Regions from separate parts of the Homo sapiens genome. Here region 2 is linked to region 1. The links come from fine-mapping of genetic effects on gene expression. Tissue or cell type: tibial nerve. Region 1 holds a variant in brackets; the other region holds the start of a gene. All regions are shown on one strand. Distances are from middle to middle.

Region 1 (5,146 bases):
AGGATAGGGATTCTTTGGAATCACAACTGCAAGAAAAAGACTCATTCTATCACCCTCCCTCCCCCCTGCATTCTCATCCCAGCCAGAAGAAAAAAAGGACTTGCCACTTCTGCTCAGGTAGTTTTGTTCCAAGAAGCTGGTTTCCTGGCATTTGACCTAAATGTTAAGGAAATCTCTGAAGAAGACTGAATTTAGATTGGCTGGAATTGGAGGTTTTAAATTATTTCTGGCAGATGCAGAAAAAATATTAAATTTTTCTTCCTAAGGCACCTTAGACAAATATTGTGACCTAAGTCAAAGGTGAAGTATATAAATATTAATAGAATCATAGGCTCAGAGTTGAAAGGGCTCTTAGAAACCTGTAATTCTGTCCTGCTAAGAATGAAGGTCTGAGGCTCAGAACAAGACACAATGCCCTCCGCAGGTTACATAGTGAGTTGGGATAAGAACTTGTTTTAAAATTGAGCCCTGATAACCATGCCAGGGATTTTCTACATCAATCTACTTGAAGTTTTAGTTTGACTATTGCAGTGAGGAGTAGAGGAACATGTGGAAATATAAATCTGATAGCATCTCTCCTTAAAAATCTTTGCTCTTAAAAACCTTTATTCCTTATTACCTTTAAGGTAAGGTCTAAATTCTTTAACCTGATTTCTAAGGACTTTTTTGACTCTGCCCATCTTGCTCTCCCATTATGACTGATGTCATTTCCTATCATCCAACCCCATGTTCTAGTAGCCCTTATATGTTGAGCTCTCTATTACTCTTTGTCAGACACATATCAATACTCAGTTTTCAACACTGGATCCAGGGCCACCTCCTTATTGAGGACTTCTCTGACCATGTCCCAACTAGGTCAGTGTCCTCTCTTTACTCCCAAAGCATTCTGTAGACATCTATGTTACAGTACTTCTTAATTTTACTCCAATTATTCATTTTTTCCTTAAACTGAGAATTTTTTGAGGTAAGGGATATCTAAGACATCCTACAAATAGTGAGAACTTACTATAAGTTATACACTGTACTAAGCTCTGGGGATAGAACTGTGAACAAACCAGACTTCCACTCTCATGGAGCTTACCTCCTAGTGAGAGAGAAAGAAAATTAAAAAAATAACACAATATACGGTATAATGTCAGGTAGTGCTAAGTGCTGTGATTAAAATTAATGCAGGGTAAGGAAACAAAATTTTAAGGGAAGTCCTCTTTGAGGAGATGACATTTACACAGAGCTCCCGAAAGAGGTAAAGGCACAATGCCTTATGAAGATGTGAGAGGGTATAACAACAAGTGCAAAGAGTCTGAGACAGGAACATGTTAGTGTGTTTGAGAAATTGGAAAGGAGGTCAGTAGAGCTGTAACTGAGTGAGCAAAGGGGAGGGTAGAGAGAAATTAGGTTAGAGAGTGAGTAGCAGTAAAATTGTGTAGGACTGCAGCCTGTGAAAATGAACTGAACTTATTCTAAATATAAAGGGAAGCCACTAGAGGGTTTTGAGCAGGGGAGGGACAAGATATACTTAGAAGGACCACTCTGACTGCTTTGTGAGAGGGACGAGAGTAGAATTAGGGAGACCAGTTAATAAACTATTATATAGGGCAGGTAGAAGATAATACTTCCTAGGCCTCCAGGTAGGAAGTGATAGTTGTGGTAGTACAATGTTAACGATGCAACAACTAGAAAAAGTCAGAGTAATTATTTAAAAAGACACCACAGAGCTGTCATGAGGAAGACACCACAGAGCTGTCATGAGGATTAGATGAACTGGAATTCCAAGGGGTGGCCTCTGAGGTAGCTGATACTGTTTTCTTTCCTGAGGGCATCTGCTAATTTTGGCATAAACTAAGGATCAGGCTTGGCATGTGGTGAGGGGCTCTACTGGAGGAAAGAGAAATGAGAGCTGCTGCGACAAACTGGAAACTTAAGGAGCCCCTGCATGTGGCCAGTTTTTCTCATTGGGTATCTGCTGAATTTTGGGCCAGCACATTGGAACTTCAAAGCTAGACTGAGAGCTTTTAAAAGGCAGAATAAAATCTCCTATAATCTTGTGGTTTTAGGAGATAAGGTTCCACTAGAAGTAGGTAGTATACCCCAAATACATGGCTGATCTCCTCTTAAAGATATTTTAAAACTATAAGGGGTGAGAGGTAATAAAACTAAGCCCCAGACCTCTCAAGGGTAGGACAATCTCCTGCAGTGTTTCAGGGCTAAGGAGCTAGAAATTAGGTTCCCAACCAAGAGCCCAAGAGGGTCCGTGTCCAAAAAACAAGCATAAACCATAGGCACAATCCAGATGTGGTCTAACTCAATCCAGAATTAGATTGAGGTGATCAGGCCCTATCCTATTTAGTCTAGCAGAGGAAAGGAAGAATTCTTTCTCATGGAAGATACCAGTTGGAGCCTCAATAGTTCTTTTAATATAAAACGTTTGGCATACTACAAAAATTATTAGACATAACAGAGTCAAAACAGTGTGATCAGTAATCAAGAGAAAATACAGGCAATAGAAAGAGACCCATATATTATCCAAATAATGGAACAAACAAACAGATTTTTTAAAAATCATAATTAAAATGTTAAAATGTAAAAAAGATGAACAAAATATAAGAAAAGGTAGATAGTACCCACAGAAATATCTATATAAAAAACTAAATGGACATCTTATAACTAAAAAATACAATATTAGGAATAACTCATTGCATGGGTTTAAGGACAGACAAGAGCCAATAGAAAGGATTAATAAACTTGATGAAAAAATAGAAAACATCCAAAATAAAGTACAGTGAGAAAATATGAAAAAATATATTAGAGCATTAGAGATTAAGTAGACACAGTCAATAGGTCCAAAATATGAGTGGCTGCAATCCCACAGGGAGAAGACAGATAGAATGAAGAAAAAGCAATATATGAAAAGGTAACAGCGGAGACTTAATCTCTAACTAATGAAAGACATCAACCCACAGATTCAGGATGCTTATGGATTCAGCAATCCATAGCAGGAAAAATACAAAGAAAACGATACCAAAACACATAATTGTCAAACTGCTGAAAATACAAAAGATGAAATACAGATGAAATAAAAGACAGGGAGGAAATACAAAGATATATTTTAAAAAGCAGTCAGAGAGAAAAACAGCATTACCGGAGCAACAATAAGAGTGATAGCAGGCTCTTTAATAAAACT[G/T]TGTAAGCAAGAAGAAGTAGAATAGTATCCTTAAAGGGCTAAAAGAAACAGACTACCAAAGATAGAATTATACACCCAGTGAAAATATCCTTCAGAAATAAAGGTAAAATAATGAGATTTTCAAATAATCAAAGTTGAGAGAATCTGTCACCAGCAGACCTAACTATGGAAAATGAAAAGGAAGTTCTTCAGGCTGAAGGACATTCCAAATGGAAACATGAAACTACAGGAAGGATGAAGAACACGAGAAAGGGTAAACATGTGAGTTGATACAAAAGGATACTGATTATTTAAAACAATAATAAAAATGGCTTGTGCCGTTTATAATATATGTATTAATAAGTTATGTGACAGTAATAGCACAGAGGATGAAAGTGGAGAGTAAATGGAGCCAAACTTTGTTAAGAATTTTGCATTATTTGGGAGTAGTTAGAGCACTTATTTAAGGTAGATTTTAATAAGTCCAATATGCATATTTGCATACGGCAATTAATTAAAGAATTATCAGGGATAAGAATGCATTACTAAAAAGCTAAGGGGAGAGAAGTAGAATAATAAAACATACTTGATTAATCCAAAAGAAGGCAAGAAAGGAGGAATAAAGAAATAAGGAAGAACTTGGACAAATAGAAAACAAAAAAGCAAAATGCAAAATGTTGACTTAAACCCAAATAAATAATTTTATTAAAGAAGGGTGGATTAAGTAAAACAGTCAGTAGGAATAAATGAACAAACCAGACCAAAAAAAACCCCCAGAACTCAATTATATTTGTTTATAAGAGGGCCCTGAGATACAAAGACACTCAAAATATAAAAACACAGGAAGAGAAAAGCAAACAGATGAAAATAATGTACTCTATAAACACTAACCAAAAGAAAACTAATAACATGAATAACCAATTAACCAACCAACCTAACTGATACATATACCTAATAAATATAGAATACGCAGAGACAATTTCATCATAGATCCATCAGACATTGGGTAGAGAACAGGACAGTATGAATAACTTTATGCCAATTAAATATGAAAATTGAGATAAAATGTCACTCAAGACCAGCCTGGGCAACACTGTGAGACCCCATCTCTACAAAAACAAATTAGTTGAGCATGGTGTGTGCCTGTAGCCCTAGCTACTCAAGAGGATCGCTTGAGCCCAGGTCGAGGTTGCAGTGAGCTATATCACACCACTGCACTTCAGCCTGGATTACAGGCTCTATCTCTTATCTCTAATGCTCTAAATTTTTTTTGTATTTTCTCACTGTACTTTATTTTGGATATTTTCTATTTTTTCATCAAGTTTATTACTCCTTTCTGTTGGCTCTTGTCTGCCCTTAAACCCATGCAATGAGTTATTCCTAATACTGTATTTTTTAGGTATAAGATGTCCATTTAATTTTTTATATAGATATTTCTGTGGGTACTATTTTTTCTTACACTTTGTTCATCTTTTTTACATTTTAACATTTTAATTATGATTTTTAAAAAATCTGTTTGTTTGTTCCATTATTTACATAATATATGAGTCTCTCTCTTAAAACACAAAACAAAGCAAAAATACCACTGACACAAGAAAAAAACAGAATATGAAGAGCCTCATACATAATAAAAAATTGCAATTGCAATTAAAAATCTTTCCACAAAGAAAATCCCAGGCCTAAACTGGCTTCACTGATGAATTCTAGCAAATATTTAAAGAAGAAATAATAACAAATCTTGCAAAGCCTCTTTTGAAAAATAGAAGAGGGAACACTTCCCATTTCATTTTATAAGGCCAGCATAACCCTCATACCAAAACATGACAAAGATAGTTACAAGAAAAAAAAACTATAGACTAATATCCCTCATGAACATACATCCAAAATCTTTAACAAAGTATTTGTAAATTAAATCTAGGTCTCTCTCTATATGTATATCAGATATACAATCCTATATATATCATATCATAACATGCAGGATAATAT
Region 2 (5,146 bases), 160 kb after region 1:
CTCTACTGGGCTTAAAACATTACTAACCTGCAGAGTTGCTTAGGCAAGAGTTTAGGAGGTTGGTAAGTAAGCAACAAAAAGTGTTCTCTTTCATAGTAATTTTGGGCCTCCTGCTGGCAGTTAGAACTAGAGCAAAGAGTTCAATGTAATAAAGCATTTCCCTCTGCAACCAAATATTAAAATTGCAGTTTGGCACTAAACTAGGTCTCAATCCTTTTCAGAGTTTAAAAAAAAAAAAAGAGCTATTCTATTTGCCTGGCACATTACACTTCAACAAAACATTTTGATGTACATTAGTTAGCAACATTTGATAAAGTGTTTATAGACATTTTTTAAAAGGAAGGAAACCCCCAAATTTCCACAAAATAAGATGTCTTTTAGTTTGTTTGAACAAACACTACTAAATGTTTTCTTTTTTTTTTTTTTTTAAGTTCAAAATACAGTACAGAAATGAGGAAGGGAATCTAGAGTACTTTTGATTTAAGCAGGTCAATCCTTGGGGCTGTTTCTTAGAGAAACTTACTACGTTTTGTCTCCAGGATCACTTTTAAGAAACTCTCCTTTAAGGGGATGGGGGAAACTAAAGCTCATCCAGAGGACAGTTTAGAGAACCACAGCAGATGAGAGACAACTGAAGAAAGTGGAAGTGAAGACTCAGGGGACATGATTACTATCTTCAGATATCTTAACAGCTTCCCATAAGGGAAAAGAACTAGGAAGGATGGGAGCCAGCTGTTTCTTTCAACTTATAACCAAATGTGTCCAGGAACAGAATGGGTTTCCTTTAAAGAGATTCGCTTCGGATCACTGGAAGAGGTTCCAAACGGGCTCGTCAAATTATCGGGGGGATTTGGGGATTTTCAAAGTCACTTTGGCATGGGATGGGAGAAAGCGCCCCTAGATGACTTTTAAATTCTCTTCCAGTCAGGAGATATTCCGGGGTTCACCCATCGGCTGGATACCACTTTCGATGCTCTCGGGCTGGCACACAACTGTGCCCACGTGTCTGGCCCCCAGGGCCGCTGTGGCTCACTTCGGTGCGGGGCCGCTCTCCCTGCCCGTTTCCGGCGGGGCACTGGGGCAGGCGGCACACGTGAGTCGGCCAGCCGGGGCCCAGCCCCCAGGACGCTGCTGACAGCTCCGGGCCCTAGGCGCCCCAGCTCTCGGTGGGGGCCACGCCGCCCCGTCGACCTCTGTCTCTGCCTTCCCCGAACCGGGACCCGGCCAGCCAGAATCACAGGCATTCCCACCTCTGGCGCCGGAGGGGACCGACTGACCCGCGCAGACGGGGTCGCGCCGCCGCCCGGCCCTCGGCCCCCAGCCAGCCTGCCCCGGCCCACCCGGCCCCGCCGGCCAGACACGGCGACCTATACGGACCGCCCCCACGCCGACCCTCCAAAGGGCCCCCGGCCTTGGGTTTCCCGTGCCGGGGCCCCCGGGCAGTCCTGGCGGCGTCAGGGCCGCGACCGGACCGTGGGCCCCGCCCGCCCGACCGCAGATGCAGAGCCGGCCTCCGGGCTCGGGGCCGGGCTGACACGGCCGAGAAAGGGCCCAGCCCCGCGCGGACCACAGACTGGCAGGCCGGCCAGACAGACGGACAGGCTGACCCCGGCCCGGGGGAGCAGGCGCAGCGGCTGCGCAGGTCCCGCCACCGCCTTCTGGCCCCAGGCGGCCCCTCAGGGCACGAGCTCTTAGGCGGGCGGAGGCGGCCGCGAGGCGCTTACCTGAGGGCGCGGCGGGGGCGCGGGGCGGCTCACTCTCTTCCCGCCGCCATGTTTCCGCTGCGCAGGGAGGGAGCGGAGACGCGGGAAGGGGGCGGGCGGGCGGCTCGGGAGAGCGGCGGGCGGGCGGCGGGGGGCTCCACCGAGCTGGCGGTGGCGGCTGAGGCGGGGGGCGGGGCGGGGGCTCCCCCGGCCCCTCCCCCGCGCCTCCCGCTGCGAGGTGGCGCGCGCCTCGGCCGTTGGGCTCGCGCGGGGGGCGGGGCGGCGCGCTGGAGGAGGGAGGGCGCGCGGGAACCCGGCCCGGCCGTACCCCGCCGGCCTGCCGACCCGGGTCCGGGGGCCCAGTTGGCGCCCGGACCAGCTCTCCGGTCTGCGTCCTGTAGATGGGAAAACTGAGGCCTGAGAGGGCGCGAGGGCGGGGACGAGGCCGAGGACTCGGGTTCGAATCTCGAGGACGCCAGTAGCCCGCTCTGAGGCCGCGTGGGGCTGGTGGAGGAGCCACCGGTCGGGCCCCCAAGACCGGCTGACGTGGGCCTCGCCTCGGGCGACTCCCGCCGGGCTAGTGGCTGGCCGTGTGGTGACCTTGGGCGAGTTACTTCGCACAGCCACCCAGGGGCCTCTTCTCCAACACGATAGCACTGCACCCGGAGGGTAGGTGAGAGATGAGTTGGTGCTTGGATGCCCTAGGGAGTGTCAGCGTCCTCGGTCCTCCCTGTGGTGATCCCTTCAACGAGTACGCACTGAGCCCGTGATGGGCCAGGTACAATGCACAGGCTCATTCTTCCAGGCCCACCAGCCATGTTGGCTACACAATTCTATTTTTGTTTTGTTAGAGATGGAGCCTCACTTTGTCCCCAAGGTCGGAGTGCAGTGGCGCCATCATAGCTCACTGTAACCTCAAATTACTGGGCTCAAGTGATCCTCCTGCGTCAGCCTCCCAAAGCGCTGGGACTACAGGCGTGAGCCACTGCGCCTGGCACACAATTGGTTTAACCACCACATCATTTTAGCAGCTTAGGAAACTGACGTCTTGACTTCTGTTTTGGCTGCTTGAAAATACAGTGCAATATAAATCCCGAGACCTCTGCTGAGCTGGATGTGGAGTGGGTGTGGGCATCATTTAGAACATGGCAATCCTCAGGTCACACAGGAATGTCTTGTTAATGATCCTTCTGTGAACAATGTTCCTTGGAGGGAAGTCCACTTAAGCAAGGCTGGAGCAGCAGATGGGGCAGCTGAGCCTGGATTACTTGCCTTGCCTCTAGAATAGGTCTTAGAGCTTTGGACTGAAGGGGGGCCGCCTCCTTGTATCCTGGTATTGGTGTCAGTATCCGTCTGCCCATTCTTGAGAAATGGAAATGGTCAGAATCTATCCAGGTTCTGATCTGCATCCCTGTTGTCTAATTTAAACTTTCATTCCATGGCGTTTTGGGGAGTACCTGTCTCATGAAGAGCCCTGAGGTTACAAGGATAATTAGAGCCTAAATCTAAGGAGCCCATATTTGGGGAAACTATTATGTCAATAGCTAATGAGAGCACAGTGTTGTAAGTGCTCATATTAGTTTTCTATTCCTGCATAACAAATTGGCACAAATTTTGCAGCTTAAAGCAACACCCATTGATTTACTCACAGTTGTGTAGGTCGGAAAACTGGCATGGTGTGGCTGGGTTTTCTGCTCGTGGTGTCATAGGCTGAAATCAAGATGTCTAGCACCTCCACGAGGGAAAGGTCTGCCCCAGGCTCCTTCGGGCTGTTGGCAGAATTCATGTCCCTGTAGGACTAGGATCCCACAGCTACACTGTTTTGCCAGCTCTCTGTTGGGGACCACTCTCAGGTCCTTGCCACGTGATCCCTTTTATCTCATCAACAGAGAACCTTTCTCATGTCACTCCCTCTCATTCTTTAAATATCTCTGATTTCCCTTCTTCAACCAGTCAGAGAACACTATGAGCTTTTAAAAGACTTGTAATTAGGTCAGACCCACCTAGATAATCTTCCTACTTTAAGATCACCTGTGCCACATCACATACCCTAATCACAGGAGTAAAATTCATCATAGCCACTGTCCCAGGGACTATGCAGAAGGTGTACATGAAGGTTAATCTAGGAAGCTACCTTAGAATTCTGCCTACTACGTCCAGTGAGAAATGTTCTCTTGAACATTTTCTCTATGAATTCCCCTAGCAGTTTGTTCTGTAACTCTGTCCATGGCACCATATATGTTGCCATTATTGGAGTATATTTCTAAACCTCTTTTCTAGGCTGAAAGCGTCTTGAGATCAGGAACCTTATTCACACCTGTAGCCTTAGATAAGGCTTGGCATGAGGGAGATATTCCCACATCTGCTAAAAATAAATAAATATTATGCATATTGTCCTTTGGATTCCTGCTTTTTTTTTTTTTTGAGATGGAGTCTCGCTCTGTCATCCAGTTTGGAGTGCAGTGGCATGATCTCGGCTCACTGCAAGCTCCATCTTCCGGGTTCACGCCATTCTCCTGCCTCAGCCTCCTGAGTAGGTGGGACTACAGGCGCCTGCCACCACGCCCAGCTAATTTTTTGTATTTTTAGTAGAGACAGCGTTTCACCATGTTAGCCAGGATGGTCTCAATCTCCTGACCTTGTGATCCGCCCTCCTTGGCCTCCCAAAGTGCTGGGATTACAGGCGTGAGCCACCACACCCAGCCTCCTGCTTCTTTTTTAGATCCAGCTCAGAACTTCTCTGACACTTCTCAGGAAGAACTCATTTCTCCCTCCTCTCCACTGTCACTTGGTAAAAATCTCTGTGTGAAATGTTTCCCATTGTAGTATTTTAAGTCAGACTGTAGTTTCCTTGAATATAGTACTTTGCTTTTATTCCACTTAATATTCCAGGGCACAGCATAATGTATTAACAGTTCTGTGCTGTTCAATTAAACAACTAATTACACATGGGTGTTATTAGTTGCTTAATGTTTGGATTTTAATAAGGGGGGTTAAAAACCAAGAGGCAACTGGAGAGTGGAATTGGGCTATGACAGACCCTGTGACCTTTGGGTTACAGGTGTGGGGAAGCCAAGAAATACAGAGGCAATGGAGAGGGAAGAAATAGGCAAGTTAATCAGGATGTAATTTTTTTTTAAAGGAGGTATGCTAGGAAACCCCAGGTCTGCTCTTTTCTACATTACATTACAGCAAAAAGGAGTGATTATTCTGGCACTGACAGAACTGACAAAAACAGTAGTTTTTGTTTTGTTTTTTGTTTTTGTTTTTTTTCATGTTGTTGATGACCCAGTAGAAGAGTTGGTAAAGGAAATGGGAAAGATGGTTTCTGATGCTTAAAGAAAGTATGTGTGTTGCGGGGTGTGGGGGGGATGCATTGAAATACATAAGAGCCTTCACCACATTAAGTCCTACACATCAATTAAGACTACCTTCCCCAGGAA

Direction of the effects. Alleles are on the strand shown, and positions count from the first base shown. SD is a standard deviation of normalised expression in the study named.
With allele G in place of T in region 1, the expression in tibial nerve of the gene that starts at base 1,972 in region 2 is lower (small effect, 0.31 SD a copy in GTEx).

Evidence for each region. PIP is the estimated chance that this variant, and not a neighbour inherited with it, causes the effect.
Region 2: it holds the start of SCMH1, and the variant in region 1 is fine-mapped to the expression of SCMH1 in tibial nerve (GTEx, PIP above 0.99). The same link has a PIP of 0.9 or more in aorta.

The regions. Positions count from the first base shown.
Region 1 is chr1:41,075,426-41,080,571 of GRCh38, forward strand. It overlaps SCMH1 (Scm polycomb group protein homolog 1), which reads right to left. Exons shown (of 16, transcript NM_001394311.1): 9 at 1-26. Among named protein-coding and RNA genes, the nearest start is that of SLFNL1, 56 kb to the left of the region's middle. The variant G/T (reference allele first, on the strand shown) is at 3,182.
Region 2 is chr1:41,240,335-41,245,480 of GRCh38, forward strand. It overlaps SCMH1 (Scm polycomb group protein homolog 1), which reads right to left and starts at 1,972. Exons shown (of 16, transcript NM_001394311.1): 1 at 1,725-1,972. SCMH1-DT (SCMH1 divergent transcript) reads left to right here and starts at 2,024. Exons shown (of 3, transcript NR_186015.1): 1 at 2,024-2,372. RefSeq lists an enhancer at 533-712 and silencers at 1,033-1,192, 1,293-1,842, 1,883-2,282.